Linked DNA regions of Homo sapiens: regions 2, 3, 4, 5, 6 and 7 are each reported to be linked to region 1. The links are microRNA targets in miRTarBase. Many come from high-throughput screens and were not tested one by one. Region 1 holds a microRNA gene; each other region holds the end of a gene's coding sequence.
The links. Region 1 holds the annotated microRNA hsa-miR-5011-5p (UAUAUAUACAGCCAUGCACUC, at 1,060-1,080, shown strand). A microRNA usually pairs through its seed, bases 2 to 8, with sites in the 3' UTR of a target mRNA and lowers its output. Matches are read on the target gene's strand: a 7mer-m8 pairs with bases 2 to 8, a 7mer-A1 pairs with bases 2 to 7 and ends in A, and an 8mer does both.

Region 2: miRTarBase lists SOS1 as a target of hsa-miR-5011-5p. The part of its 3' UTR that is shown has no 7-base or 8-base seed match.
Region 3: miRTarBase lists CALHM5 as a target of hsa-miR-5011-5p. Seed matches in the 3' UTR shown: 7mer-A1 at 973-979, 8mer at 974-981, 8mer at 976-983, 8mer at 978-985, 8mer at 980-987, 8mer at 982-989 and 21 more.
Region 4: the mRNA of TUBD1 is a reported target of hsa-miR-5011-5p. The part of its 3' UTR that is shown has no 7-base or 8-base seed match.
Region 5: miRTarBase lists RBBP9 as a target of hsa-miR-5011-5p. Seed matches in the 3' UTR shown: 7mer-A1 at 2,905-2,911, 8mer at 2,903-2,910, 8mer at 2,901-2,908, 8mer at 2,899-2,906, 8mer at 2,897-2,904, 7mer-A1 at 1,253-1,259 and 1 more.
Region 6: the mRNA of FUBP1 is a reported target of hsa-miR-5011-5p. Seed matches in the 3' UTR shown: 7mer-A1 at 967-973, 7mer-A1 at 2,248-2,254, 7mer-m8 at 2,249-2,255, 7mer-A1 at 2,442-2,448 and 7mer-A1 at 2,780-2,786.
Region 7: miRTarBase lists ARSK as a target of hsa-miR-5011-5p. Seed matches in the 3' UTR shown: 7mer-A1 at 2,807-2,813, 8mer at 2,805-2,812 and 7mer-m8 at 2,639-2,645.

What each region holds. Positions count from the first base shown.
Region 1 is chr18:67,080,548-67,084,646 of GRCh38, forward strand. It overlaps MIR5011 (microRNA 5011), which reads left to right and starts at 1,037; the gene lies at 1,037-1,139.
Region 2 is chr2:38,982,385-38,986,483 of GRCh38, reverse strand. It overlaps SOS1 (SOS Ras/Rac guanine nucleotide exchange factor 1), which reads left to right. Exons shown (of 23, transcript NM_005633.4): 23 at 169-4,099. The coding sequence ends at 660. Among named protein-coding and RNA genes, the nearest start is that of ARHGEF33, 95 kb to the right of the region's middle.
Region 3 is chr6:116,515,689-116,519,688 of GRCh38, forward strand. It overlaps CALHM5 (calcium homeostasis modulator family member 5), which reads left to right. Exons shown (of 2, transcript NM_153711.5): 2 at 1-4,000. The coding sequence ends at 301. The region is part of intron 3 of TRAPPC3L (trafficking protein particle complex subunit 3L); the gene reads right to left. Among named protein-coding and RNA genes, the nearest start is that of CALHM5, 6.0 kb to the left of the region's middle.
Region 4 is chr17:59,856,573-59,860,671 of GRCh38, reverse strand. TUBD1 (tubulin delta 1) reads left to right here. Exons shown (of 9, transcript NM_016261.4): 9 at 248-1,193. The coding sequence ends at 350. Among named protein-coding and RNA genes, the nearest start is that of MIR21, 17 kb to the right of the region's middle.
Region 5 is chr20:18,486,076-18,490,174 of GRCh38, forward strand. It overlaps RBBP9 (RB binding protein 9, serine hydrolase), which reads right to left. Exons shown (of 5, transcript NM_006606.3): 5 at 465-3,915. The coding sequence ends at 3,689. Among named protein-coding and RNA genes, the nearest start is that of RBBP9, 9.1 kb to the right of the region's middle.
Region 6 is chr1:77,945,290-77,949,289 of GRCh38, reverse strand. It overlaps FUBP1 (far upstream element binding protein 1), which reads left to right. Exons shown (of 20, transcript NM_003902.5): 19 at 1-135; 20 at 516-4,000. The coding sequence ends at 524. Among named protein-coding and RNA genes, the nearest start is that of FUBP1, 32 kb to the left of the region's middle.
Region 7 is chr5:95,603,016-95,607,114 of GRCh38, reverse strand. It overlaps ARSK (arylsulfatase family member K), which reads right to left. Exons shown (of 8, transcript NM_198150.3): 8 at 2,013-3,878. The coding sequence ends at 3,589. Among named protein-coding and RNA genes, the nearest start is that of GPR150, 15 kb to the left of the region's middle.

The sequences.
Region 1 (4,099 bases):
GCTAAAGAAACAGGCTCAGAACAGGGCAGCCCCATGGAAACCAGGTTCCAGAATGGCAGTAAAATCCCCCCACAGGAACAGTCTGATGAGATAGCGCTGCTGCCACCGTGGCACTTCCTCCCCTAGGGCCTGGGATATTTGATGGTTAATTTCTGTACCTCTGTGATGAATACATACTTGTTTGTTTCTTACTGTTTTTACTTCTTGCTTCTGTTTCAAATTTCTCCCCGAAGCCATCTGTTTTAGTTTCCTCAGGCTGCCATAACAGATTAGCATAAAACAAATGGCTAAAAGAACAGAAATGTATTCTCCCCCAGTTCTAGAAGCCAGTTCAAACTCGGGTGTCGGCAGGATTGCATTTAATCCAGGATTCTAGGAGACAATTCTTTCTTATCTCTTCCAGTTCCTGGTAGCTCCAGATGTTTCTTGGAGCTACACTTGGCTATTTAAAGTTAATTTTAATGTTTAATTAACTAAACATTAAAATAATTAAAAAGTCAGTCCCTCCATTGTGTTAGCTGTATTTGAAATACTCAAAGGCACATGTGGCTACAGGCTACTATATTGGACTATGCAAGGGTAGAACACGTGTTATCACACAATGGTCTCTTGCACAGTATTGCTCTAGAATATTCCCTGGACAGAAAAGTTTTACCTGTGGGGCATTAAACAACAAAGAGCCTTACAATTGCCTCTGACTTGTATAGTAAAGCCAACAGTTGTTTGTTGTCATCGTCAGAAAAGTTGATTCCATATTTGAATATGGTTTCACTGCTTGTCATGCTTGGCCAATGCCACAAACCATGGATTAACTGATGGCCTTCTCCACTCTCATGGCTATTCACCCCCAACAATAGAACTTATTTCTTTCATGTTGCCTCATATGGCAGAATCCCCTTCTATTTTAAGGCTGAATAATATTTCATGGTCATATACATATATACACACACACAGTCATGCATTGCTTAACAGGGAAATGTACCTTAAGGCAATTTTATCATTGTTTGAACATCATGGAGTGTCCTTATCCAAACCTAGATGGTATTGAGTGGATGCTGTTATATATACAGCCATGCACTCTGTAGTTTGGGTACACAGTGCATGGCTGTATATATAACACTATCCATTCATCTTTCAGCAGGACTTTTTTTTGGTCACAACCCTGCTAACCAAAACAGGATCTGGCCAGAGAGCATGAAGTGAAGAAACTGATAGGAAGTGGCAGATGTCAACAAAAGCAATCTCTAACTACTCATTGCAATTTAATTGTCATGGTGCTGGTGGTAGTGTCTTATGCTAATGAGCAATATGAGCAGCCTGGCAACACAACCCAGAAGTTACCACCTCTTTCCATGGCAACAACCTAAAAGTTACTGCCCCTGCCTTAGAAAGTTCTAAACAACCTGCCCCTCAATTTGCATTGGCTCACCCCTCAATTTGCATGCATTTGACCTGCCTTAGAAAGTTCTAAACAACCTGCCCCTCAATTTGCATTGGCTCACCCCTCAATTTGCATGCAATTGAATGTGGGTCTCGCTGAGTATAAATACCGTTGCCAAGAGACCATATGTTGCTGACTCTGATTGCACTGCCTATGATTTAGCCCTGCTCTGCAAGGAGCAGTACCATTCAATAAACGATTGCTAAGACTCCTAGCTCATCCTTGAATTTTTTCCGGGGTTAAGCAAGAAATCCTCCCTGGCTAAGCCCCAGTTTGGGGCCTTGCCTGTCCCACAGCAGTGTAACGTACTACACACTTAGACAATATGACATAGACTGTATCTCCTAGGCTACAACTCTGTATAGCTTATTATTATACTGAATGCTATAGGCAATTGTAACACAATAGCATCCGTACATCTAAACATACCAAAACAAAGAAAAATTACACTAAAAACACAGTATCGTAATCTTATTGGACCACATTTATATATGTGGTTTTTTGTTGACTGATGCAATACACAGTGCATGGCTGTATATGTAACACTATCAGTCACCATTCAATGAGCAATTAGGTCGTTTCTATACTTTATTGCTACTAACACTACAATGAAATACATATGGATAAACCTAGAGGGCATTAAGCTAAGTAACTCTTACTTCTAAGATTTCTACCTTAAAGAGTCATATTTATGGCCTTTACTTGAGGTAAACTTCAGAAGCCATTTGTTGTGGATTAGGTAACGTGTGGAGAAATTGCTTTGTTGGGTTTTTCTTCCTTTGCATTTTAGTTTACACATATTAATTGTATGTATTTATAATCTGCAGAGTGATATTTTGATAAATGTATATGAAGTGTAATGATCAAATCAGAGTAATTAGGATAAACATCACCTCAAACATTTATCATTTCTTCATGTTTGGAATATTCCAAATCTCTTCTAGTTTTTTTAATATACACTATAAATTATTATTAACTATGCTTACCCTATAGTGCTATAGAACACTAGAACTTATTCCTCCTGTCTAGCTGTGACTTTGTATCCATTAATCAACCTTTCTCTGTCTTTAATAACATTATCAAACTGTGATTACCATAATTCTACTCTATACTTCTATAAGCTCATTTTTTAACTCCCACATATGAGAGAACATGCAGTGTTTATCTTTCTGTGCCTGACTTATCTCACCTAACATAATACCTTCCAGGTTTATCTGTGAATGGCAGAATGACAGAATTTTATTTTTCATGACTGGATATTATTGTATTGTATATATATGCCACAATTTCCTCAACTGTTCATCTTTTAAAGAACATTTAGCTTGATTCCTTATCTTGGCTATCACGAATAGTGCTGCAATAAATATGGAGATACAGATACGTCTTCTATAATTGATTTATTTTCTTTGGGTAAATACCTAGTAATGGGATTGCTATATCATATGGTGGTTTTATTTTTAGTTTTTTGAGGAACTTCCATACTATTTTCCATAATTACTGAACTAATTTGCATTTCCATTAACAGTGTACAAAACACAAGACTTGCTTTTTCTCCACATCCTTGCCAGCATGTTACTTTTTTTTTTGAGGCAGAGTATCAGGTCTCGCTCTGTTGCCCAGGCTGGAGTTCAATGGCGTGACCTTGGCTCACTGCAACCTCTGCCTCTTGGGATCAGGCAATTCTTCTGCCTCAGCCTCCCAAGTAGCTGGACTACAGGTACGTGCAACCACATCCGGCTAATTTTTTGTATTTTCAGTAGAGACGGAGTTTCACCATGTTAACCAGGCTGGTCTCGAACTCCTGACCTCAGGTGATCCGCCAGCCTCAGTCTACCAAAGTGCTGGGATTACAGGCTTGAGGCACTGCGCCTGGCTGCTTTTTTTCTTTTTATTATAGCCATTCTATTATATACACTTCCCTGATCATTAGTGATGTTGAGCAGTTTTTCATGTATCTGTTGGCCATCTTTATATCTTATTTTAAGAAATGTCTGTTCAGATTTTTTTTGCCCATTTTATAAATTATATACATATATATTTATATCTAGAGATATCTAATAGATTTGTAATTGAGTATCTTGTATATTTTGGATATGCAAATTCCTTGCCAAATAAACAGTATGCAATTTTTTTTTCTTTCTATAGGTTGTCTCTTCACTTTGTTGATTGTTTTCTTTTTCTATGCAGAAACTTTGTGTTTTTTTAAATACGATAACCAGCTAGATGCCTCATAGTGTTCTTCTTTAAGGCTCTGGCCCTCATTTTATAGATTCTTTCACATTATCTCTTTTTGGAAAATTAACTTTACTATTTTTTTGGAATGGAATGTTCCTTAGCTCAGTTTAATTATGCTGTGAATCTGACCTCCTTTGCTTTACATATTCCACAGATTCCTCACAGTCTGGGCCTGTCAATGACTCTGTTGACAGTTTTTCAATATCTACATGCATGATTTTGTTGTTGCTTTACAATTCTTCTGTTAATTCTGTTAATTAAGACATTCTTTTTTTTCTTCAAAGAATAGAGAAAATGTGTCATTTGGCTCCTGCCATTAAAGTAGAATTCCAAAAACAAGATAAAACAAAAAAGGTAGTTCTATTGGATATTTTTCTCTAGTGAATTCCATAAGTTAATACTAGAGTAAAAAATATAGAGTTT
Region 2 (4,099 bases), not on the chromosome of region 1:
AAAAAAAAAAATTTTTTTTTAATTAAAAAGAAAACATATGGCAAAACTCCCTGTTCCACACTTAGCATCCTGCCAATAGCATGTTTGAAAACCCCAACTTAATTCTTATAGTCATGATACTTCATAAATTTATTAATAAATGTGTATTTTATTCTTTTCATTTGTTAGATTATGTCTAAGCATTTGGACAGTCCCCCAGCCATTCCTCCTAGGCAACCCACATCAAAAGCCTATTCACCACGATATTCAATATCAGACCGGACCTCTATCTCAGACCCTCCTGAAAGCCCTCCCTTATTACCACCACGAGAACCTGTGAGGACACCTGATGTTTTCTCAAGCTCACCACTACATCTCCAACCTCCCCCTTTGGGCAAAAAAAGTGACCATGGCAATGCCTTCTTCCCAAACAGCCCTTCCCCCTTTACACCACCTCCTCCTCAAACACCTTCTCCTCACGGCACAAGAAGGCATCTGCCATCACCACCATTGACACAAGAAGTGGACCTTCATTCCATTGCTGGGCCGCCTGTTCCTCCACGACAAAGCACTTCTCAACATATCCCTAAACTCCCTCCAAAAACTTACAAAAGGGAGCACACACACCCATCCATGCACAGAGATGGACCACCACTGTTGGAGAATGCCCATTCTTCCTGAGTTCCTCTGTACTGGGATGTATATTTTCCTAGCCCCAAATCCATTGCTGGCAATGGATGCACTGAATGTGCCAGCACTGAGGAGTTAAAATGAGAACTCCAAACACTAACGACTCTTCTTCAAGATGCAGTATAAGACAATGAATTTTAACCTAGATGTAATTATACAATGGAAATGGTATTCCAGTTTAGAATATGGAAAGACCGACCTAGAGGAATTGGACAACTGATTGCACCTGAAAATCATAAAGGGACTTTTTCTGGCCAATAGGCAGGAGTCCTCTTTTTGTGAAGTGATCTTTTGTGAAGTGATCATTAAAGGGATGGAAAACACAGTCTAGTGTCCAGCAGGCCCACATGACAGTTTTTGTAATTCAAATTATGCACTTTTAAAAAAAAAAACTTAAACAGGGATCTTAATATCTTCCTTTGTTTTCCTTTGCTTTACTCTTCTACTTTAGAATATTTTCTTAAAAATCACTCAAAGGACTGTGAGGAAAGGCTGTGGTACCTGACCTTGTTGAAATCAAGGCCCGGCACTGTACTACAGGCCTGTTTACAGATTATTACGGTGAACTGAATGGGTACCGAGGCTTCACCAAAGAGGTACTTTTTTGTTGTTGTTGTTGTTTTAGGAATAATTGTACCAATTTTAAGAGCATTCCCCCCACCTGTCCCCACACACCCAAACAAAATGTGGTGGTGTTGCCTTCAAAAAAGAGAAGTTTTGTGTCATTAACATGACAGAAGAACTTTTTAAAAAAAAATAACTGTCAACTATTCTATTTGCATTTAGGAGACTGTTCATCTATGCTAGATTGTCATTTTCCCTCCTTCTCCCACAGAAGTTTACTGGTAGTCCATGTCATGGCTCGTAGCTATCCCTCTAACCATACCATGGAAATGCAGGCACCCAATGTGAAAAGGAGCACTTGCTGGGCATCACTGACACCGCTCATGTTTTACACATAGTTGAGTAATCAGCATATCTAGAATTATCTTGCATTGCCTAAATCATATGTATATAGTGAATGTTATATAATATACCTGGCAGGTCTGTTTTAATTTAATTGAATAAAGATACAAATACTTTGTTTGGCTGGCATATATTAAATTATTATATGAAGAAAATGGTTGATTCTTATTTCTTTTAGTTGAAAAACACACAAAAACACTAAACATAAAAGCACGTTTTGTGGTACGCCTTGGTTTCTAGTTCTGGATATATGTATTAATCTTAAAGAATGATCTAAAGTCACAGCTTGGCATATAGGAAGATACTTGGTTAGAATAGGATGGGTATCTTTTAAGCAGAACTTTGTAAGTAAGTTTTAAGTTCCTAAGCAACAAGTATACAGTTTGTTAAGGTTTATATTGAACATTCTACCTTGCTTGAGGTTTTCTGCTTTATCAAAACTATTCATAATAGAACATCTACCTGCATCATTACTATCATAATATGGATTATTCATAAAGCGTATGTACTGTTCTTCTGAGTCTAACAAATACTGTGACTGAAATGCATGCACCTTGTTGAAGAGAAAACATTTTATTAATCTCCACTATAATGTCTGTGAAATGTGCAGTATTCCATCCTTAGAGAGTTTATCTGGTTCATCAGCATCTGCATGTATCCTCTGAATAATGAAGCAACATTTCAGCAATTCTGTTAACCACACCATTAGAGACATTTTTAGAAGTGCTGCAACATGGTGGGAACCTAGTACTTTAATAATTTCCTATGATATTTATTAGAGCATAAAATGTACATCACGATAGTACAGTATGTAGTCCTTTAAGACCAGAAGGTATGTTAACTGCACCATCATTAAGCAGTCTATCCTATTTTCTTATTTATTTGTTAGAATTGAATCCTTTCTCAATATCTGTACCATTCCTATGATGGTAGCCATTCTTCTCTTTATAAAATATTTCCTCTTTGAAAAGCGTCCTAAAACATTAATTTCAAATCCCCTCTTGGATGCAAAGTGTCCCTAAGACCATCCATTCAACAGTATTTATGTGAGCCAACTTACTAGAGCCGCTACAACTAATCATGATAGACAGTCCAGAATCTCCCTGGACTTTATACTGGGCCAGCCTCATTGTCCCTAAGATTTCTCTTTTTATGTCTCATGGATTACTTCTCTTTTTAATTGCCCCAGGCACATTCCAAATGAGAACCTGGTAAAAGTCACATTGGACCCCCTTCAGTATGTCTTCGGCTAATGTGTTAGCCTTCAATAAGGTGATAACCCCTTTTCAACCTATCTAGTCTATAAAGAGGAAAAATTCAGATTTGGAGTTCTAATCCTATTTCTCCCAAAGGGAACTATTCTTCTACCCCATGGTTCTAGGAGACCACTTCACTGTGCAACAGTTTTACATGCATTGTGGATGGAGGATATTTTTATTCTGAACTGTTACATTTAGGTAAAAATATTTTCTGCAGTGGTAACTGATTAGAAAAATGCCAATTGGATGCCCTTAGGTGGAGGTGAGAAAATGGCATCCTTGCCTTCTTCTCAATATGAAACATTAACTAGTTGACAAATTTATCCTTGTAGTAATGAAAATCTATTTAATCAGGGACCAGAAATGGCTGAGGAGATAAATGCATCATTACAAAATTCTGCTTTTGAATCCTGGACATTACAAGGGGGTAAATGCAGCATGACTTTTTGTTAACCACATTCCAAAATGTGGAACATTTCTTTTAGAAATGAAAATATTTCAAGGCTGATGTATTTTAAGACTACACATTATCAGGAAACATACATTGAGAGTTCGCTTAATTAAAGGTTGTTGGGCATCAAATTATGTTTAGTAGGTTACTATTCTCTAACAACTCAAGGATGCTTTAATGGATCTGAATTTGACAAAGAGCATGCCACACTAATACTACAGTCAACAACAGCCCAGAGAACAATTACTATGTCAGCTGGAGGCTATATTATGATTCTAAATTCTTAAAGGTTTTTTTCCCTCCATAAATCAAAAATTACCTTATGTAAACCAAAAATTAGTTGGTATTTATGGTCATGATCTTAATTCTCAAGTTTAGCTTAATCTTGTATTTCATTGTTTGTCTTCTAATATGACAGCTTAAATTCAGATTTTTAAGTGACTCAGCAAAATAGGAGGAGTGTCCCAATTTATTAGTGTTGTACATATTGAAGAAAACCTTTTTGTTCCTTCAGATTTAGAAAGAAACAGTTTAACCATTTATTTCTTGGTATTCTGCTGCTGTGAATAGGTTTACTTATTCTTTTAACATATATTGTGTGACTACGCAAGTATAGGTCCTGTTGTATTGCATTAATCTTTACCAGTAACTAAACATCACAAGGTTAATATTGGTTTGGCTGAAAGAATTATGCAGTAAAGTTATTTATAAGGGAACATGATGACTTTATTCAATATTTTTCTTCTTTGAAACA
Region 3 (4,000 bases), not on the chromosome of region 1:
TCAGCTGAGTTTTTGGAAGACATATGCACAAAAGGAGAAGGAGCAGTTGGAAAATACATTTCTGGACTATGCCAACAAGCTGAGCGAGAGGAACCTGAAATGTTTTTTTGAAAACAAGAGGCCAGATCCTTTTCCCATGCCTACGTTTGCTGCCTGGGAGGCTGCTTCAGAGCTGCATTCTTTCCACCAAAGCCAGCAACACTATAGCACCCTCCACAGAGTGGTGGACAATGGTCTGCAACTTAGCCCTGAGGATGATGAGACGACAATGGTCCTTGTGGGTACTGCCCACAATATGTAGCTCATCCACCATCAATGACTCATGGTGTTGAGTGGCATGCTCATTCTGTGATCCTCCTAACGTATCACCAGCAACCTGTGTGTCTCTGTATTTTCTTACATTTGGAGTATGTTTACAAGACAATAACACAAAGGAAACTGCTTTGAAGCTCTCAAGTGGAACATCAGGATGTGCTCAAATTGATGCTGAGGGGTGACAAAGGTGCTCTTGCATTGGTGGAGAGGGGCTCAGTAGGCCTAAATGTTGCTCCAAGATCTAAGATTTTATCATTCAACAGACAGACTCATGTGAGAGGGCTCATCAGTCTCTGTAAATATTGGTTGCAGAATTTAGGGGCAGAAGCAATGGCTTGTGAGTGAGCAAGTTACTCTTAACATAGGTTGCCCTACACAGTGGCTCCTGCAGTGTGATCAGCAGGAGTCTCTGTCCTACAAATCTACACTTTTAAGGATGTATGAAATTGTGGAATTCATTCCCTCAGGATCTGAAGATCTCAGTTCTCAAAAATCACAAGTTGCAAGAATATGATACCTAAAATTGAAAGTTTTTCACATGTTTTCACTGTATACTGAAAATACTCCCCTGGAAGCAGGGCTGCATCATAATTTTTGTGGGCTTTATGTACTTTTGCCTTTGCGAACCATTTCCTACATTCAAAATAGTAGTAACAAATATATATATATATATATATATATATATATATATATATATATATATATACACACACACAGAAATATATATTTATAACTGCATTGATAAAAGGTGAATATATTAGCATTTTCTTCAACCTAAAAGTTTATGTATTTTCTTCTGATTTTAAAAGAAATTAAAAACATTTTAGTGGGCCCTTACAAGTATTATGGTCCTTAGGCACAGTGCTTACTAGGCCGTGGGTATGTCTTAGTGCGTTTGGGCTACTATAACAAAATATCATAGATAGGTGGCTTATACAAAATAGAAATTTATTTCTCACAGTTCTGGAGGCTGGGAAGTCCGAGGTCAGGCTGCCAGCATGCTCAGGTTCTGGTGAGAGCAATTTTCCAGGTTGCAAACTGCTTGCTGACTTCTCAGTGTCCTTCCATGGTGGAAAGTGCAAATAAGCTCCCTTGAGCATTTTTATAAGGCACTAATCCCATTCCTGGAGGCTCCACCTTCATGACCCAATTACTTCTCAAGGCTCTGCTTCTTAGTACTATCAGCTTGGGGGTTAAGATTTCAACATATGAAATTGGGGGAGACACAAACATTCAGACTATAGTAGGGTAAATTGACCTTGGCTAAAGGTCTGGGGACACTGTCCAAAGCAGTACTGGCATAAAACTGCATTGCAGTCTTACATTTATCAGAAATAATGCAAATCTTGCATTCTACAATGTACTATATCCATGTTAGTATGTACATATATATGTGTATGTATATATGTACATAAATTCTCCTTAAATCTCTGAGAAGAATTGTGCTTTAAAAAAGAACTATGTTTTGTGCTGTGGCTCATACCTTACAGTGGTAGTCTATGTCTCTTAGTTTGAGAAAGCTGAATATTAACTTCTTATTAACATGAAACATGATGGCAAACTGAATCCTACAAGTATAGGACCCAGAACATATCTATGTTATTGTCATTTACAAGAAGAAATATGTATTTGGTCTTTCTTCCTATTCCTGGTGCAGAGCTCCTAAAACCTTTGGGACCTCCCAAGTGATGTGTCTGGTAGTACGCGAATGAGATGACTGATAGTTAGGGGCTTCTGAATGGCCTCAGAATAGGGTCTGGTTGCCACGGGAACCAACCATGTGTTTAGAGGGTTGGAACTTTCAGCCCCACTCCCAGACCTTGGGGAAGGAAGAGGGGCTGAAGGTTGAGTCGATCACAAATGGATAATGATTTAATCAATCATGCCTAAGAATAAAGCTTCCCATAAAAATCTAAAGGACAAGGTTCAGAGAGCTTCTGCATTGCTCAATACATGAGGAGTGGTGAGCCCAAAGGGGCCGTGGAAGCTCCGTGCCCCTTCCCCCAAACCTGTTCCTGTGCCTCCATCTGGCTGTTTCTGAGTTATATTATTTTATAATAGACTGATGATAGTAAATAAAGCCCTTTCCTGAGTTCTGTGAGCTACTCTAGCAAATGGTGAAATCTGAGAAGGAAATCATGGGAACCTCTGCTTTGTAGCCACGTCAGATAGAAGATGTGAGTAACTTTGGAACCTACTGCTTGTGACTGGTGTCTGAAGTTGGGGGAGATCTTATGGGACTGAGCTCTTAACCTGCTGGGGATCTGCACTTAATGCCGATTAATGCCAGAATTGAATTGTATGATATCCAGTTGGTATTGGAGAATTGGCCAGTGTGGGAGAAAACCCACACAGTTGGTGGCAAGGAGTGTTCAGTGTTGAGTGTGAATGTCAATAAAAAAAGGTTTGTTTTTTCTACGTACAATATCTTTGGGAACTTGGAGGTGCAGGGTCAGACGTCTGTGTGTGTATGTGGCAGGGACAGAACAGGGATTAGGGATGTGAGGGGGTAGAGTTTTCAGAATAAAGGGAGAGAAAATTCAGCAAAGAGTTCTCCTTCTTAATCTTTCTTGACTTAAAGTTTGTCTGCCCTTAAGTGTCTTCTGAGCTGGAAAAAGACATATAGGAACTGGCCGATGCCGATGCCTCTTTTGCAGTGTGTGAGAGGCTGAAACAGAAGTTCTACAGAAGTAGGTTAGCTGTAAGGAGCTGAGGATTGAGGAGTCATATCTGGGGGATATTCCTGCCACCCTCAAGTCCAGGGACTTTCTGCACTCAAAAAACTTACGCTCATGACAATGACTGCCTCATTCAAGAAAACCCAAGCTGACTGGCAAGAAGCCAGCAGCCTGGGTACTTGTTGCTGCAGCTTAGTAAGTAGCAGAAGAGCTCATCCTCCTCCTCTGGAAGAAGCCACTTAACAGGTTCTCATCCTGACTCCTAAATTCCTTAACAGTCCTTTACTCAGGAATAAAACAAGTCCAAGAAAACTTATCTGTCCCACAAATAGTCCTGGAGGCAGTGGAGTAAGATAGGGAGAGCAAATTGGTGTCTGCTCTTGAGTATCTTGAGGGAATGGGTATCTAGAGGCAGCAGGATGAACTGGCTTTGATAGCAGAGACTTTAAAATGTGTGGACCATTAGTTGTCTTTGGATGTGCTCCCTAGAGGCTGCGCCTGACACAGGGAGCTGTGTATACATGATTTATTAAAAGGAAATCCTCTTAGGAGAAACATATTAGCAGGATAAACACAAGAAAGAATGCAGTTACAAGTGGAGTCTCAATCAATCCCAGAGGAAATTCTGGGACTTCAGCCTCAGCTTGACCTATGGGGGGGCTCTGGAATGTCAGATTTCTCCTGATCCCAAGTGTGCTCTGGGGCTTCCATTGCAGCCAAGAGAGAGCATTCCCCAGAAAACTCCAGGTGAGGAGTCTCCAGTGGCCCAAGGGTGATCCTCCAGAGGAGGTTACACTGCCGAACTGGGACATTGGCACCCTGGATTTGAATATCTAGAGAGGGCACCCAATGGTCATACTAATGTTTGCCATAACAGTCTCTTCTAGGTCTAGACTTGAAGCATATGGAAGGGTCCTTGGGCTAGAGCCAACCCAAGCCCAGGCTGACTCCCTTTTAATACTTCTAATTTTCCCTGAAGATCTGGTCTTCTCCCTACCACCACTACC
Region 4 (4,099 bases), not on the chromosome of region 1:
GAGGTTGCAGTGAGCCGAGATCATGCCACTGCACTCCAGCCTAGGTGACAGAGCAAGACTCTGTCTCAAAAAAAAAAAAGAAAGTTCACTAATCTTTGGAGTAAACAAAGCAAATGTAAGACTTCTGAACGATTGTGTGATCTTCAAATGTTCATCAGCTAGAAAAGGTCTGTTTATTGTTTAAGAGTTACTCATTTGCCAGACATTTTTTATTTTGTAATTTCTGTTTTTTTTTTTTTTCTACCAGAGCCTACATTCATCAGTACACAAAATTTGGAATCGAAGAAGAGGACTTTTTAGACAGTTTCACGTCATTAGAGCAGGTTGTTGCCAGTTACTGTAATCTCTGATCTTGAACAATGGGAAAAGTATACCTTAAGGCATTTCTGGACTAAAATATTTTCAATACTATTTTCTCTGTAAAGTTTTCAAAGTTCTCCATCCTGGCTAACACGGTGAAACACCGTCTCTACCAGAAAATACAAAAAATTAGCCAGGCGCGGTGGCGGGTGCCTGTAGTCCCAGCTACTCGGGAGGCTGAGGCAGGAGAATGACGTGAACCCAGGAGGCGGAGCTTGCAGTGAGCCGAGATCGCGCCACTGCACTCCAGCCTGGGCGACAGAGCGAGACTCCGTCTCAAAAAAAAAAAAAAAAAAAAATGTTTTCAAAGTTCCATTCTGTTAAAGTAACCACGTAGAATGCTGAGTCTATTCTGCATACTATGCCCACAGAAAAGGAAGAAAACTTTTTAAAATGGAGAATCGCATGTTTTCAATGAAAACATTCACTTGGTATTTCATTTGTAAGAAAAAAAAATGGTGCTTTTATAAAGAACTTTGGGGAAACACTTTGCTGAAATGTTGGGACTCTGGAACTAGCCAAGAAAAGAGAATATTCTCTTTGTCTACATGTTCCTAAATCTTTACTCCAAAACAACTCCAAAAACAACTCACAAAGCATGAACCAAACTTTCACAGCATAATTTCAAGCTAAGGAATTGTAATTCTGTACTTAATATATTCATGTTTGAAATGAATGCTTTGAACCACAGGAGGGAGATGTTGTCAAATGCTACAGTGTGAACATGTATTTTGAATATTCTGTAACAGGGCAAGTTTCCACTCTAAGCAGCTATTTAAAAATAAATATGAGGATTTTGGTAATAAATGCTTATGCTTAAGTACAAAAGTAAATAGGTAAATGTGTACTTAGTGTGCTTTTCTTAAACTTTTTGGGCATGAGAAAATTGGCTCAAATTTTGTTTTGGATCTTGGAATGCCAGAGCAGATATTGATTTTATTCAATTATTGCTTTAAAATTACTTATAATGGGCTGGGCATGGTGGCTCACACCTGTAATCCCAACACTTTGGGAGGGCAAAGTGGGAGGATCACTTGAGGCCAGGAGTTTGAGACCAGCCTGAGAAATACAGTAAGACCCCCATCTCTCCAAAAAAAAAAAAAAATTTTAATTAGCTGGGTGTGGTGGCATACACTTGTGGTCTGAGCTACTTTGGAGGTTTGGGTGGGAGGATCACTTGAGCCTGGGAGGTCGAGGCTGCAGTGAACTGGTATCGTGCCTCTGCATTCCAGCCCGGGTGACAGAGTAAGACTGTCTCCAAAAAAAAAAAAAAAGAATGAAATTACTTATAGGTATTCAGCTGGTACAGATGATGGTTATATGCTTTTCAGTAAAAGGGGTAAGAATTTTCACCTAAATTTTTCACTAAGTTGAGAAAATTATCACCAAGGAAATATAGTTACTTGATGAAATTGACGCACAAGATACGGGTTTCACCCAAGACAAAACGTGCTTGGAAATTGACAACTGAGTTTGAAGGGAATGTTGTATTTCCATAAAACACATCACATGCAATATATTAACAAATGTAAAATGATTAACAAATAGGAACATTTGCCCTTTCTGCCAAATCTACCAATAGTGACTTTTATATGGAAAAATGACAGTTCACAGCTTCACTGGTTCTTCTTTTTCTTTCCATATGGAAATGATTACCTTTTTGCTGTTTTTCTTATCAACTGTTGCTATGATTTAAAATACTGAACCATATCTTATTTGTAAGGAATGTAAAAAGTGGTCGGTTCTGCTGCTAAAAGGCACACCCCGCTGCTGCATTTCGTTAAGCCAAGTACACTTGAAAAATAATTAGATCATAATTTTTACCAAACAAGTTAAAGTAATTGTTTAAGCATTGAAGAGATCCACAGACTGAAACAATTTCCCAGACTAAACCAGCATTCATGAAGATCTGTAACTGAGTATCTCACCAGGGGTTAATCTGATTCTGAGGAACCTTACTAGAAGTTAACTTGAAAGAAAGTCGTAAGTTGAAATCATTTGATATTTGAGAAAATTCATGAGGTACCAATAGGGGCAAGTATATTTCTAATTTGGCAACTCGTGGAATCATTAGCAGGTGAACATTAGAAGCAAATCCCAACTAGACAGAGCTCTGGGTCCATTTACTTATGCTATTTGACCCTTTTTTATGATCCACAACTGCATTATTTGATATGTATGGTTACCTATTACATATATATGTGTGTGTGTGTGTGTGTATGTATTTTTTTTTTTTTTGAGACAGCGTCTCGCTCTGTCACCCAGGCTAGAGTGCAGTAGCATGATCTCAGCTCACTGCAGCCTCAACCTCCCAGGCTCAAGCAATCCTCCCACCTTAGACTCACTAATAACTGGGACTATAGGTGTGCACCACCATGCCCAGCTAATTTTTGTATTTTTGGTAGAGACGAAGTTTCCTCATGTTGCCTGGGCTGGTTTCAAACTCCTGGGCTCAGGCTATCTACCTGCCTCGGCCTCCCAAAGTGCTGAGATTACAGGCGTGAGCCACCATACCTGGCCAATGCCTAAATATTTTAAAGCTTGGGTTAAAACATTCACATGGAAAATAATTTTTTCTTGTCTACTTGGAATAACAAAATTTTTGCTCTTAAAGTTGTGATTTTAAGTTAAAAATTAACACCAAGATGCTGATGTCAAAACTTCAGATGGAGTGGCATTGGAAATGTGCTTTGATTTGTGTGGAGATAATGGCCAGTCAGCCAGGAGGACAACATTGGCTCCCTTAGCTCCTGGGCATACAGATCCAGAAAACTTTGAAAGTGTAATTTCTTAGATTATGGGATAACTGGCACATTACGTTGTCAAACATTATCCTGCAGAGCCAGAATGCACCCCTGTGGACAATGAGCACAGTGTGAATGCATACTGTTTCTTATTGTCAAGCTCTTTCTCTCTTACCTCCCCAATCTTTCCTCAAGAGCTTAAGCTGTAGAACCTGTTTTTTCCCATGCATTCGCCACTTCCAGCCCTGGGATCTCCCCGAAAACTCCCCTCCCCTATCCACCCTTACTATTCAATCTACAACATCTTTCAACATCTTTCTCCTATATTTTACCCATCACTTAGAACTCACTAAGTATGCCAACAATTCACTATTATCAGCCAATTCATCCATTCAACCAGTATCATCTATTCAGTGCCAGGCACTGAGGAAGATGTTAAGGATACAGGGATCAATGCTACCTTGTCTGAAGAAGCTTTTTGGGATGTTTAGTGCTACAATTCTAGCTTCCTAATTATTGCTTGTTATCTTGCCTGTGTGCATATTCACCTTTTTTCCAGGAAAGAATGTGGTCCAAGAAAGAAAGAAAGAACAATGAACTCAGAGCTCTGGTCTGGGCTAGGCTTAAGTGTTGAAATGTCTCTTCACTGGCTCTGTAGGCTCTATAAACTCTACTTTGCAGTATACATACTAGTGATTCTCCTGACCACCATGTGTATCACACTTGAATTCCTGTCCAAAATTTTCTTTTAAAACATACTGCATATGTCCCTAACCCACTATCTTCTCTCATGAGCCCAAAGTTTAGCAGATACCCCTTTCTTGTTCTGCCACCTACCCACCAAATATGGCTTTAACCACTAGCTTGTCATTTTGGGCCAACAATCATTTATTTTATTTTATTTTATTTTTGAGATGATAGGGTCTCACTCTCTTGCCCAAGCTGGAGTGCAGTGGTGTAATCATGGCTCACTGCAGCCTCAACCTCCCAAGCTC
Region 5 (4,099 bases), not on the chromosome of region 1:
GACTGTAAAAAATTATATATATAAATATATATAAATATAAATATATATATAAATATATATAAAAATATATATGTAAATATAAATATATATATATGTAAATATAAATATATATATATATATATATATATATATATATATATATATATATATATATATATATATATGAAGGATCTGGGAACCTGAAACTACAGACAGAGGGTTTCTCTTCCACCCTCAGTGAGAGTTGGAATGGTAAGAACAATGTCTGTCCTTCCTGGGACTTGGCCTATCAAAAAGGCACTAGTTTTATGTAGTAAGAAAAATGAACTTGGAAGAGAGCTAGAAATGAGAAGAAACCAGCTTGTATGTTTTAAATATAGACTTTGTCTTATGTCTTTATAGCTAAAGATTGGTTTTTAGAGCTTAACATTCAATGGCTAAAACAAAAGTATTCCTTACCTCACCAATAAAGAGAAACTTCAAGCTTTTTTCCCATGGTATGTTTTTAATTCTGAAAATTAACTGAAGGAGACAAGAGACAATTTAAAATTACAGCACCTCTGATGAATAGTTAAATGGATCATTTATCCTACAGGGATAAACTGTAACCAAAACAGATTGTGGGGCTCTAGACTCCGGACAGCACCAAAAATTCAAGTTGCATATGAAGTCCTAATACTTACAGTTGATTTCCATTCAGTATTCGGTATTTTGCTCACCTGAGAATAGATACTCCCCAGAGTGTATAGAGGCCCCTGTATATTCAATGATGACCACAAAGAATCAAACAGAAATCAGAAATGACAGTCCATGGCTCTATGGTTTTTAATGAATAGTTTGTGTAGATTTTCCCATGAAACACCCCTGATCTTAGTTGGGTGATTTATAGACCTATGATGTTGGTGGTGATCAGCTAAGCAAACTAGCCAAACAGAAGTAATTTCAAATTAAGTCACTTTTACTTTGTGCTATTACTCATTATTGGATGGTGGGTGAGGGGAAAATACAAAATATATGTCCTAGACCAATGTTGTCCAATAGAGCTTTCTATAATGACGGAAATAGCCTATATTGGCTGGTCAGTAAGGTAACCAATAGCCACCAGTGGCTGTTGAGCACTTGAAATATGGCTAGTTTGACTGAACTGAATTTTCAATTTTACAGCTAGCTGTGGTTACTGGTTACTATATTTGGCAGCAAAGTTCAACAATCCTATAGGTCTATCTTAATTACTTTTATAGGAATGAAGAGTATCAGAATTATTTCTCAATTATATATATTTAGTTTTCATTTCTACAGAGAAAGAGGTCAACAAAGTTTTGTGAACTAAATTGTATAAGTTTCTTTTTTAGGAAAGGACTTCACAGAGAACAAGGCAAAGAATAAGTAATACAACAGCAAATTTCCAAAAAATTCAAGTAGAATCAAACTTTGACTATAGATTTGGTCAAATTAGTGCTAAACAGCCTCTTTAACAACATTATTATTCAACTGATTTATATAATTTGCTTTTTAGTAGTCAAATACATTGTTTTAAATCTTAATTATTTTTGATTATAAAATACATGCTTAGTGTAACAAATTCAAATAATCAGGAGGATAAAGTAAAATAAGGGGCCGGGCATGGTGGCTCATGCCTGTAATCCCAACACTTTGGGCGGCTGAGGTGGGTGGATCACTTGAGGCCAGGAGTTCGAGACCAGCCTGGCCAACATGGTGAAACCCTGTCTCTACTAAAAATACAAAAATTAGCCAGGCGTGGTGGCACATGCCTTTAGTTCACACTACTTGGGAGGCTGAGATGAGAATCACTTGAACCCGGGAGGTGCAGGTTAGAGTGAGCTGAGATTTGTGCCACTGACCTCCAGCCTGGGAGACAGAGCAAGACACTGTCTCAAAAATAATAATAAGGACGTCCACCACACTTTACCTACCAAAATGCCCATTCCCCAAAGATGATTGCTGTTGAACGATTAGGGTACCTTTCCTGATTTTTTTTGTCTAAGCACATTTAAAAACCAAGACTTTTGGTTTTGAGCGATAGCTCTGAATCTCCTTTAGGTATGAAGTGTAGGAAATTGTATTTCTGCAGCAAACTTAGGCTTTGCAACATCAAGTGTGGATTCACTGGAAATTATTTGAAGGAACACATAGCGATCATAATAGCCAAAAAATGTTGGGAAATGAAAAAGGGTGGGTTTTTTTAATTAAAAAAAAATTTTTTTTTTTAAGAGACAGGTTCTTCGCTCCATCACCCAGGATGGAGTACAGTGGCGCGATCATAGCTCACTGAAGGCTCAAACTCCTGGGCTCAAGCAATCCTGCCTCAGCCTCCCAAGAAGCTAGGACTACAGGTGTGCACCACCATGCCTAGCTAATGTTTTAATATTTTGTAGAGATGGGGTCTTGCTGTGTTGCCCTGGCTGGCCTCAAACACCTGGCCTCAAGCAATACAACCACCTCAGCCTCCCACAGTGCTGGGATTACAGGCATGAGCCACCACACCCAGCCAAAAAAAGGTTTTCTGAGGAAGTATGATCAGAAGAAAATGGAATGTGCTTGAAAGAGATCTAAAGGGCCATGGAAGTTAAAAGGTTTAACTCTATAGAACAGAACACGAAGTATGGAAAGGTTCTTTTTAAAAACACTTGTCTTTTGGAACAAAATCCAAATTGTCCCCATGATTTCGTCCTTTGACATTATGTTCATCTTGGTTATCTTAGTCTTTTCTCAGACTTCACAGACAATTATCTAAAAGCCCCTGGCTAAGTGAATGCTTATGACTGTGGTCACAAATGGATGGCTTGGATTTTATTTGTCTTGCAGTGTTTGTAAATTTTTTGATGTATACTGTTATTGCCAACTTACATACTCCATATGTATATGGATTGTATGTGTATGTGTGTGTGTGTGTGTGTATATATATATATATTTGCATTCCCCAAATTTAAAAACTACAATTTGGAGATTTTTTTCCACACAAAAAATCAGAAAATTGGCAACACTCTGCCCCATTTCCACATGGCAACAATTTAGACAGGCCATGAGCTCTCCACATGGCTCTGATCCCACCACTCTTGTCTCAAACAAATCTAGTCAGTTGTACGTATATTATGAATGTATATTGCTGTGCTTCTCCTTCCTGCCTGACTCCGGAAGACTCCTGTCTCAGTCTCTCTCAACATGTCTGAAGGACTTAGGGGCAAGTGTCAGAGGTGAAGGCCCTAGTCTGAGTTTAATGTCTGGGGCCAGCTTGAAACAGCAGCTAGTATTTTGAGCTCTAAGCTAACACTCTGGACTTTCAGTCATGTTTTCTTTCCCCAGTGAAATAGAAAAGTTTGATTTCAAAGAGGAAAAGTGTGCAATACCTGCAACATACATAAAACCTATTTAATTTTACTCAGGAGTGGGAATCAAGAAACCTGGGTTCTGTTTCTGACTCACTTCGGATAGAGAAGGGTAGTTAAGCTGTCCTTATGTTTCTTATCAAATGAGGAAAATACTGTGGTAGTTCATAGCAATTTGGGGAGTTTTAGAGTCTATGGAAAATGGAAGTGCTATTTGTAACTTAGATTGAATGTTGAAACTTGTGTTTGTTTTTCAGGCACTTACGGAACTTAACTGGATGTTCTATGTGTCTAGTAATCAGCTGATAGTAGATATTATTCTACTCCTATATTGGGATGCAAAATAGCAGAAATCATACAGTCTATGCTGGTACTTTCAGCAAAGACTTTACAACAGTAATCAGTTCATGAAACTCTGTGTTCTGAAAGTGGCCACAGTCAGTGAATTTGTGCAATTTGGTTTCCAACCTATCGGCCACTTCTTGTTGTTCCTTCCAGGGAAGGAACGGGTCGTCAGTAGAGCCAAACTGCACAATGTAAGGGCAGTTGGCCTTGATCTTCTCCCACTGCCAGGGGCGGGTGAAGTATCCTATGGGGAAAAAAAAATGATCTTTCAGTACCCATGGATAATCTCCCTTCTAGATATTCTAAAATACCTACTGGCGACCCACATAGAGACGCAAAGGAGCAGAGCCTCCGTGTGAGTTAGAAGCACTTCTTTTGTTTTCAAATCTGTAGGGCTTGATACCACAGTTACTCGTGAAGAGGTGGTA
Region 6 (4,000 bases), not on the chromosome of region 1:
CCTGCTCCGACTGGGGCTCCTCCAGGTGGTCAGCCAGATTATAGTGCAGCCTGGGCTGAGTATTATAGACAACAAGCAGCCTATTATGCCCAGACAAGTCCCCAGGGAATGCCACAGCATCCTCCAGCACCTCAGGTATAATGTAATTGCTAATTTGTTGATTTCTACTCCAGTCTGTTTTCTGCATGTTTACTGTTTGTCTGTTTGGGAGTGTTTGCCTTTTAAATTTTTATCTGGCAAAGTATAATAACTATTTAAATGAAGTACTACGGTGTATTGTTTGGGTTTTTTTGTTTTTTATAATGCTTTCCAGCATCTGAGTGGTGAATATTTCTGCAATGCCTTTGATTTTAAAAATAAATTTTCTTCCCCCAGGGATTTGCAAATCATGCAAGAAGCCACCACCATTTATATTAACCACTTTTTCTTTCTTAAAGGATTCACTCCTGAATTAGCTCCATTTCAAGGATTTTCTTTAACTTTTTGTGTATTTCTTATGTATCTCTTCTGCACAGGGCCAATAATAAGAAGTGGACAATACAGTATTTGCTTCATTGTGTGGGGGAAAAAAACCTTTGTTAAATATATGGATGCAGACGACTTGATGAAGATCTTAATTTTGTTTTTGGTTTAAAATAGTGTTTCCTTTTTTTTTTTTTTTTTTGAAAATGTACAAAATATCTATCACTACTGATAGGAGGTTAATATTTCTGTGTAGAAATGAAAATTGGTTTGTTTTTAGTATTTAGTGTAGATGTACACATTCCAGCAAATGTATTTGCAATTATGTGGTTGATGCTTTGTGATATAAATGTACTTTTTCAATGTATACTTTCACTTTTAAAATGCCTGTTTTGTGCTTTACAATAAATGATATGAAACCTCCTGTGTCGGTAAGTTGGATATGTGGGTATTTAAAGGATTCATAATTTCTTAGCAATGATAAATTAAGATACATATACACAAATATATAAGCTTTCCCCATGAAATATTGAGTTTTTAAACACTGGCATGTTTTTCCCCCCTTGCAGTATAGTGGTAGATTGGAGGATCTTTTCCATTTATTGTATTGGCTCTTTCAGCACAAGTAATCCTGATATCTTCATTTTTTTTCCTTCTGTTTGATTAAAAACTGCATGTGTGTACAATGATCTTTTGGCATACTTCCATTGCATTAACAGTGAAATTTCCTTTTATACATGACCACTGTTTCAGACCTGTACTGCTGCTATAACAGTTAACCTTTCTGTTCTTAATTTGATAATACTTGATTTCCAAGACTGTTTCGGCATAACTAATTTTAAACAGTTTTCAGATAGTGAATATGAGTAGTCTAATAAGAACAGTTTTTTTCCATGTGAAGCAACTCTTTCAATGTATATAATGTTAGTGTGTTTCTTTCTAAATTTAGGATAGAAAAGTGAATAGTGTGCAAAAAGTATAGCTACATTGCATCTGCCATTGAAACATAAATGGGGTATGGAAACGTTCAAGCTTTTTTTTTTTCTTTATGCAGTATAGATAAGCTTTGTTTTGTAAATGCACAAGTCCAATCATTGAATCAACTTAATTTTTTTATGTACTTGAAGTCATTTTATTACTCTTTAACACTCATGCTGAAGTTCTGATATTTTGTTGAAATCCATTGTTTTACTCTTTGCATATTTGTTGGCTCTTTGCATATTAATATATTAGACTACATGCAAATACAGTCTGTCTTGCCATTGTCTGTTGAAGTGCAGGTTTGATCCAGCCAGTATAGAACTAGCTCTGTAGGGGTGAGGAGGACTGTGCTGTGTATCATCCTTGATTGTGTTCCTTCAAGGAGCATTGCACTGTAAGTACATCAGAATGACAAATTGATGAACTGCAACAGTATCTTTTTGTCAATGTTCCACATAATGCAAATGCCATACGTTGTGTGAATATTATGTTGGAATACAGTGCTGATATCTTGGAAAACCATAACTGCCTCTTAATTTAACATAGAATAATACATAGTTCTGTATTTTTTTTAAAGTGAGCTTAATGGGTAAGTATTTTTTATATGCTTTAGCTATAGCTAAAGAAAACTGATACTTAACAAAGTTGAATAGTATTATTCACTGGTGCTCCTAAAATATTGTTTTTCAGTGTAAAATATGCATATCTTCTATATTTAATATGAAAGTCTTGAAATGTATCAGACAGAAGGGGATTTCAGTTTGCAAATAATGAGCAATGTAGCAATTTTAACACATTTCATAAATATATATTTTGTCATTGGTGGAGAGCACCATTTGTTGTTTTGAATATACTTTAAAGGAAGAGGTACAAGGACATAAATGTTGAGATTACCTACAGGATGGAAATAGCAGTACAGTTCATTGTAGATATTTTGAAATGTTTTTGATTGTTTTATATAACCTAGAGTGACTTCCCTTACCCTTATTTAGATCTGCATATATAGTTCTAGTATGAAGTTTAATAGTTAAGGAGTTAGCTATTTGTTATCTTTAAGAGTAGGGTATTGACGTGAACAATTGCAGTATTTTGCATGATACTGTTTTATAGATGACCTTTTAGGAAAGTGGTGCATTTATTAATTGAACTGAAGAAGTAGTTCAGTTGAATTCAGTATCATAATTCACAAATTGGAGGCTGTTGATTTTGATTCATTTAAGGTTTAAAATCTTTATTAATTGCAAACAGTGCAATTATTTATACTTCACAGTGCCTTCCCAGACCTTCCACCTTAGGTTCTGCTGCAAAAAGCACCAGGTAAGCACAACCTAAGGACATATATAAATAAATATTTCAATACATTAATGTTGTCCCTGTGAGGTTTTTGTGGTTGTGTATTCAAAGGCAATCTGCTACTGCTTCCCCAAAATGTATTTTGTTATTTTATGCTACCATCTTAGTGGAAAGTCTGTAAGTTGTTAAAGCAACTGTTTACATTTCTGGGTAATGTTTTTTATTTTACTTTTTTTTTTTTATTAAGACAAGAAAATGATGAGTAGATTGCTGCAGTAATTGAACTACATCCAAATCTTTTTGTATTTTTTCCCCAAATATAGAAGTGTTAATATTAAGAAAGGACAATTACACAGTTTTCAAGATTTAGGAAATCACTTGTTTAGAAACTTCAACAGCCTTCACAATCTGTTTTATATGATGGACAGAAAATTTCTTTGCCCTCCAAAATTATAATTTCTTTATTTTTTTCTTATTCTTAAACTATAATAATTCAGTAAGGATATTATGGGTTAGAATTTTATTATGATTTTTTTCTTAGACAAAAGTTATATGCTGAAGAAGGAAAAAGTTATAAGGCAGTATGTTTTGATAAAAGGCATGTGCATCAGTGAAATGTTAACTGTATAGCAAATAACCTTTCATAATCTGTAGCAATCAGTATTTTTCTGATTTAATAATATTTTAATAACTGACGCTGCATTTAATTTTTTTGCCAGTTTAAAATGTTTGTGTGTTTTTATAGATGATTTTAACTGGTACATATTTTGAGTTAAGTTGAATGTATGAAAGCAGCATCTTATCAGTTTTGTTTATTCGATTTCTAAAATGTGCTGATCCTTTTAAAACTCCTGCTTATCTCTGCAACAAAGAAAAATATTCAAAAATACTGCCTTCATTTTCACACACAGTGCTGAAGATGCTGCAAGCACCAAATCATAGCTCATAAAATCAGGTCCTGAGATAGTTACCCATAAAGAGGAATCCTTTGAGTGTATGCCATTGGTGAGCCGATGAGCATGGACCATAGAAGGGCTCAATGTAGAAGGTAAAATTGGCAAATCATAATTGAGAAATATGAAATGTATTCCCATACATAATATGGTATAGGGTGTAATGTACCTGCTTTTGATCACTTTTCATTTTAAAGTGCTATTCACTTGATCTTAAATGTTCCATGAACTGTTAAATTTCTTAAGTTACATAGTTACTACACCACATTTATGTGTATGTTATGTTTTAATAGTCAATGATAGGTATGTAC
Region 7 (4,099 bases), not on the chromosome of region 1:
AAAGGGTTTGGGTAGAATGAAGTAGATTTATCTTCACAAGCCTATTTTCAGGACCACATTTCTATTGTTATTGCTTTTCTCTCTATGATTAGCATATATACCCATACTTTAGCTACTTGTGTTCTTTAGGCTTATTTAGGAGATGGATGGTGGATTTGTATAGTTTAATTTTAACCTTAATACTCAGTCTTTCTTTTTAAGGGTTTCACTTCAGAATATGTGTGTTTGTGTATGCATGTGTATATACATATGTAATAAAAATCAGATATATTCAAAAGTAAAATCATTTCTCAGAAATTCATAATTGCAAAGGTAAGCTCATATAAATTCACTGAAGAACGATAAACAAATAAATAAAGGAGATGAACTTACTCATGAAGAAAACTTCAAAGACAGTTTGAAGAAGTATTAAGTTGGGTAAAATTATTTGCAGGTAAGATTTTTACTTGGAAAATAATATATCACTTGAAAAACTATTACTCACTATGAAGTGATTCAGCATAAAATAAATATATGGAAATGGAGTGCACATATAAACAAGAAGATCTTCTCTTAGAGGATATAATGGAAGGAAGATTCACTTAAAATCACAATAACTGATAAAACAACTGGAAATAAACCCACCTCTGGCTACATATTAGAATCATGGCTGGAGGGATTGACCAGCAAGACAACAATAATAGCACAGCAGGCCCAGGCTGTCTCAGAAGCTCTAATCAAGTGGTGTAGTGTAGAGCCTAGGGGGGTATTTTTTAAAGTCTCTGCTTTTCAAAAATTTTTCCGGACAAATTGATCTATATGAAGAAAACTTAGACTACTACTGAGGGATATAAAAGAAGACTTGAATAAAGGGAAAAACATGCTAATTATTTAGAATAACTATCATAAAGAATTAAATTCTCTCTAAAGTAGGTTATACATTTAATGATTTCATTTAAAAGCCAACAGGACTTTTCATTTTTGTTACTACACAAACTTATTCTAAATTTGTATGGAAAAATCAAGAGTTGCTAGGAAGGACAATTCTGAAAAAAGAAAACTATTGCAAAGGGACTAGTCCTACCAGATACTGTCTACCAGACTAATAAAATAGACTGGTCTGGCTGGGTGTGGTGGCTCATGCCTGTAATCCCAGCACTTTGCGAGGCTGAGACAGTCAGGTTGCTTGAGTGCAGGACTTTAAGACCAGTCTGGGCAATGCAGTGAAACCCTGTCTCTATAAAAATTTAAAAAATTAGCTGAGTTTTGTGGCGCGTGCCTGCGGTCCCAGCTACTAGGGAGGCTGAGGTGCGAGGATCACCTGAGCCTATGAGATTGAGGCTGCAGTGAGCAGTGATTGTGCCACTGCACTCCAGCCTGAGTGACAAGGGAAGACCCTGTCTCAAAAAAACAAAAAACAAAACAGAAACAAAGAAAATAGAATGGTCCAGTGGAAAATAAAATGTTCAGAAATGGCATAAGTATAAATGGGACTTTGGTATAGATAAAAATGGCATCGCAAATCAATGGAGGAAAAGATAATGTACTCAACCAAAGGTATTATATGATGAAGTGACATTTTTACGAATGGGAGAAGAGACAGTTTACTCAATAAAAGATCAATGGGTAGGCATATTTAAAAAAACAACCAAAGTTAGATTTCTAATATGTTTAATACATTCCAGCTGGGTCAAAGATCCAAAGGTGAAAAATAAAATTATAAAAGAAGACAAGTGGAGGCCAGGCGCAGTGGCTCACGCCTGTAATCCCAGCACTTTGGGAGGCCTAGGTGGGCAGATCACCAGGTCAGGAGATCAAGACCATCCTGGCTAACACGGTGAAACCCCATCTCTACTAAAAATACAAAAAATTAGCTGGGTGTGGTGGCGGGTGCCTGTAATCCAGCTACTTGGGAGGCTGAGGCAGGAGAATCACTTGAAACCGGGATTGCACCATTGCACTCCAGTCTGGGTGACAGAGCGAGACTCCGTCTCAAAAAAAAAAATGACAAGTGGAGAAGGCCATTCTAAATATGATACAAAATCCCAAAAGCCACAAAAGCAAAGATCTGTAAATTTTGTACTAATATTTTTAATTGACAAATCATAATTGTATATACTTATGGTGTACAAAGATTCATAAATTTGCTTACATGAAAATAAAAATTTCTACATATCAAAAAATACCAGAACAAAGTCAAAAGACAAATGACAATGACAAACTGGAAAGAAGATATTTGCAGGATCTCTTACAAAAAGCTAATATCTAAAGCACACCTGTAATACAAAACAAAGACCAACAACCAACAGAAAAATAGGCAAAGAATAGAAATAGGAAAGGCCATGGTAAAGCAGATTCCAGTGGCTGTTAAATACATGAAAATATGCTCTACGTTACTCATAAAAAGAAAAATAAAAATAGAACATTTTTATCTGTTAGGTTGGCAAAGGATAAGAAGACATGCATTGATGGTGAGATTATCAGTTAGTATACCTTCTTTAGAGGTAATTTGTAGTATCTAGTGTAATTTTGCTAAATATAGTCTTGACTCAGTAATTTCACCTCTAGATATCTACTGTTAAGTGAAAAAAAAAAGGAAAAAGAAGCAACATGCAGAACAATGTGTGCAGTATGTTACCGTTTGTGTAGGGGGAAAGGAATATATACATTTGTTTATAAATTTGTGGCCAATCTCTAAAAATGCGTAAGCAGGTGGTTTCGGTACTTGCTTCTTGGAGGGGGAACTGGATGGCAGGGAAGAGGGAAAGGACAGAGACTTCACGATCACTGTTAACCCTTTTGTACCATTTGAAGCTTTTACCCTGTATATATATTACCTATTAAAATAAAACAGTAACAAAATCAGGTACATCCAGGGTTTACATCCCGTTAAATACTCCAAATACTCCCATTAAATACATCCAAACAATCCCATCAAATACAAGTAACTCATCGAGCACCATCAAATGCTCACATACAACTATTTTATGATACATATTATTACAATATTTTATATTCTCTATTATTTAAAGGAACATAACTGTTACAGTATTTGCTTCAATTCTTTTGATACTTCCACTAAATTGTTAGAAATTGTACAAAGGCCTAAATAATAACCATTTTTGAAAATATGTGATTTTATAATCATTGGCATTTTATCTTAAAATACACTACATTCTTACAAAATAATGAAAAATTGGTAATTATTATTATTTTATTTTTATTTTTTTGCGACACAGTCTCACTCTGTTGCCAGGCTGGAGTACAGTGGCGCAATCTCAGCTCACTGCAACTGCTGCCTCCCGGGTTCAAGCGATCCTCCTGCCTCAGCCTCTGAGTAGCTGAGACTATAGGTGTGCACCACCGCGCCCAGCTAATTTTTGTATTTTTAGTAGAGACAGGGTTTCACCATGTTGGCCAGGATGGTCTCAATCTCTTGACCTTGTGATCTGCTTTCCTCAGCCTCCCAAAGTCCTGGGATTACAGGTGTGAGCCACTGTGCCCGGCCAAAACTTGGTAATTATTAAAACTGTTTCATTTAAAATACATAATTATGATCTTGTAATATATTTATATGTATCTCTAGAACACTATTTTTAAACTTTTTGTTCAAACTGCTCTTGGATTCATATGGGTTTTAAGCCACTGATCAATTGCATTTTCATACTTCCTTGGTTCCTTCTGCCAGTCTTGGTGCCACCTAAGATTTGCTATAACGTTTGAATAATTCTGTCCTATACTTTGTTTCCACTTGATAAACTGCTCTTTATTATACTGGTGGACAGAAGCAGAAACTTTAGGGTAGTTTATAATGGAATGAAGCTTCTGATCCAAAGAATAAGTAATTTCTGGAAATTTTACAGCAACATTTGTTAATTCATCTGGATCCGAGGAAAGATCTGAAAGAAAAAAAATAAGTATCTGTCAAAATAGTGACCTGCTAAAAATTTTTTTAGAATGTCATTATGACAGGTAATGTATTAGATTTTTTTTTTAGATTTTCAGTTCCTGTTAGTGTAGTAAAATGAAGGACAGTATAAATGGTAAAATAACATACCAGGAGTTAAACACCCTATGTTGCATGCCCAAATTCCCTCCTTCCTACCATTGTCCAGCTATC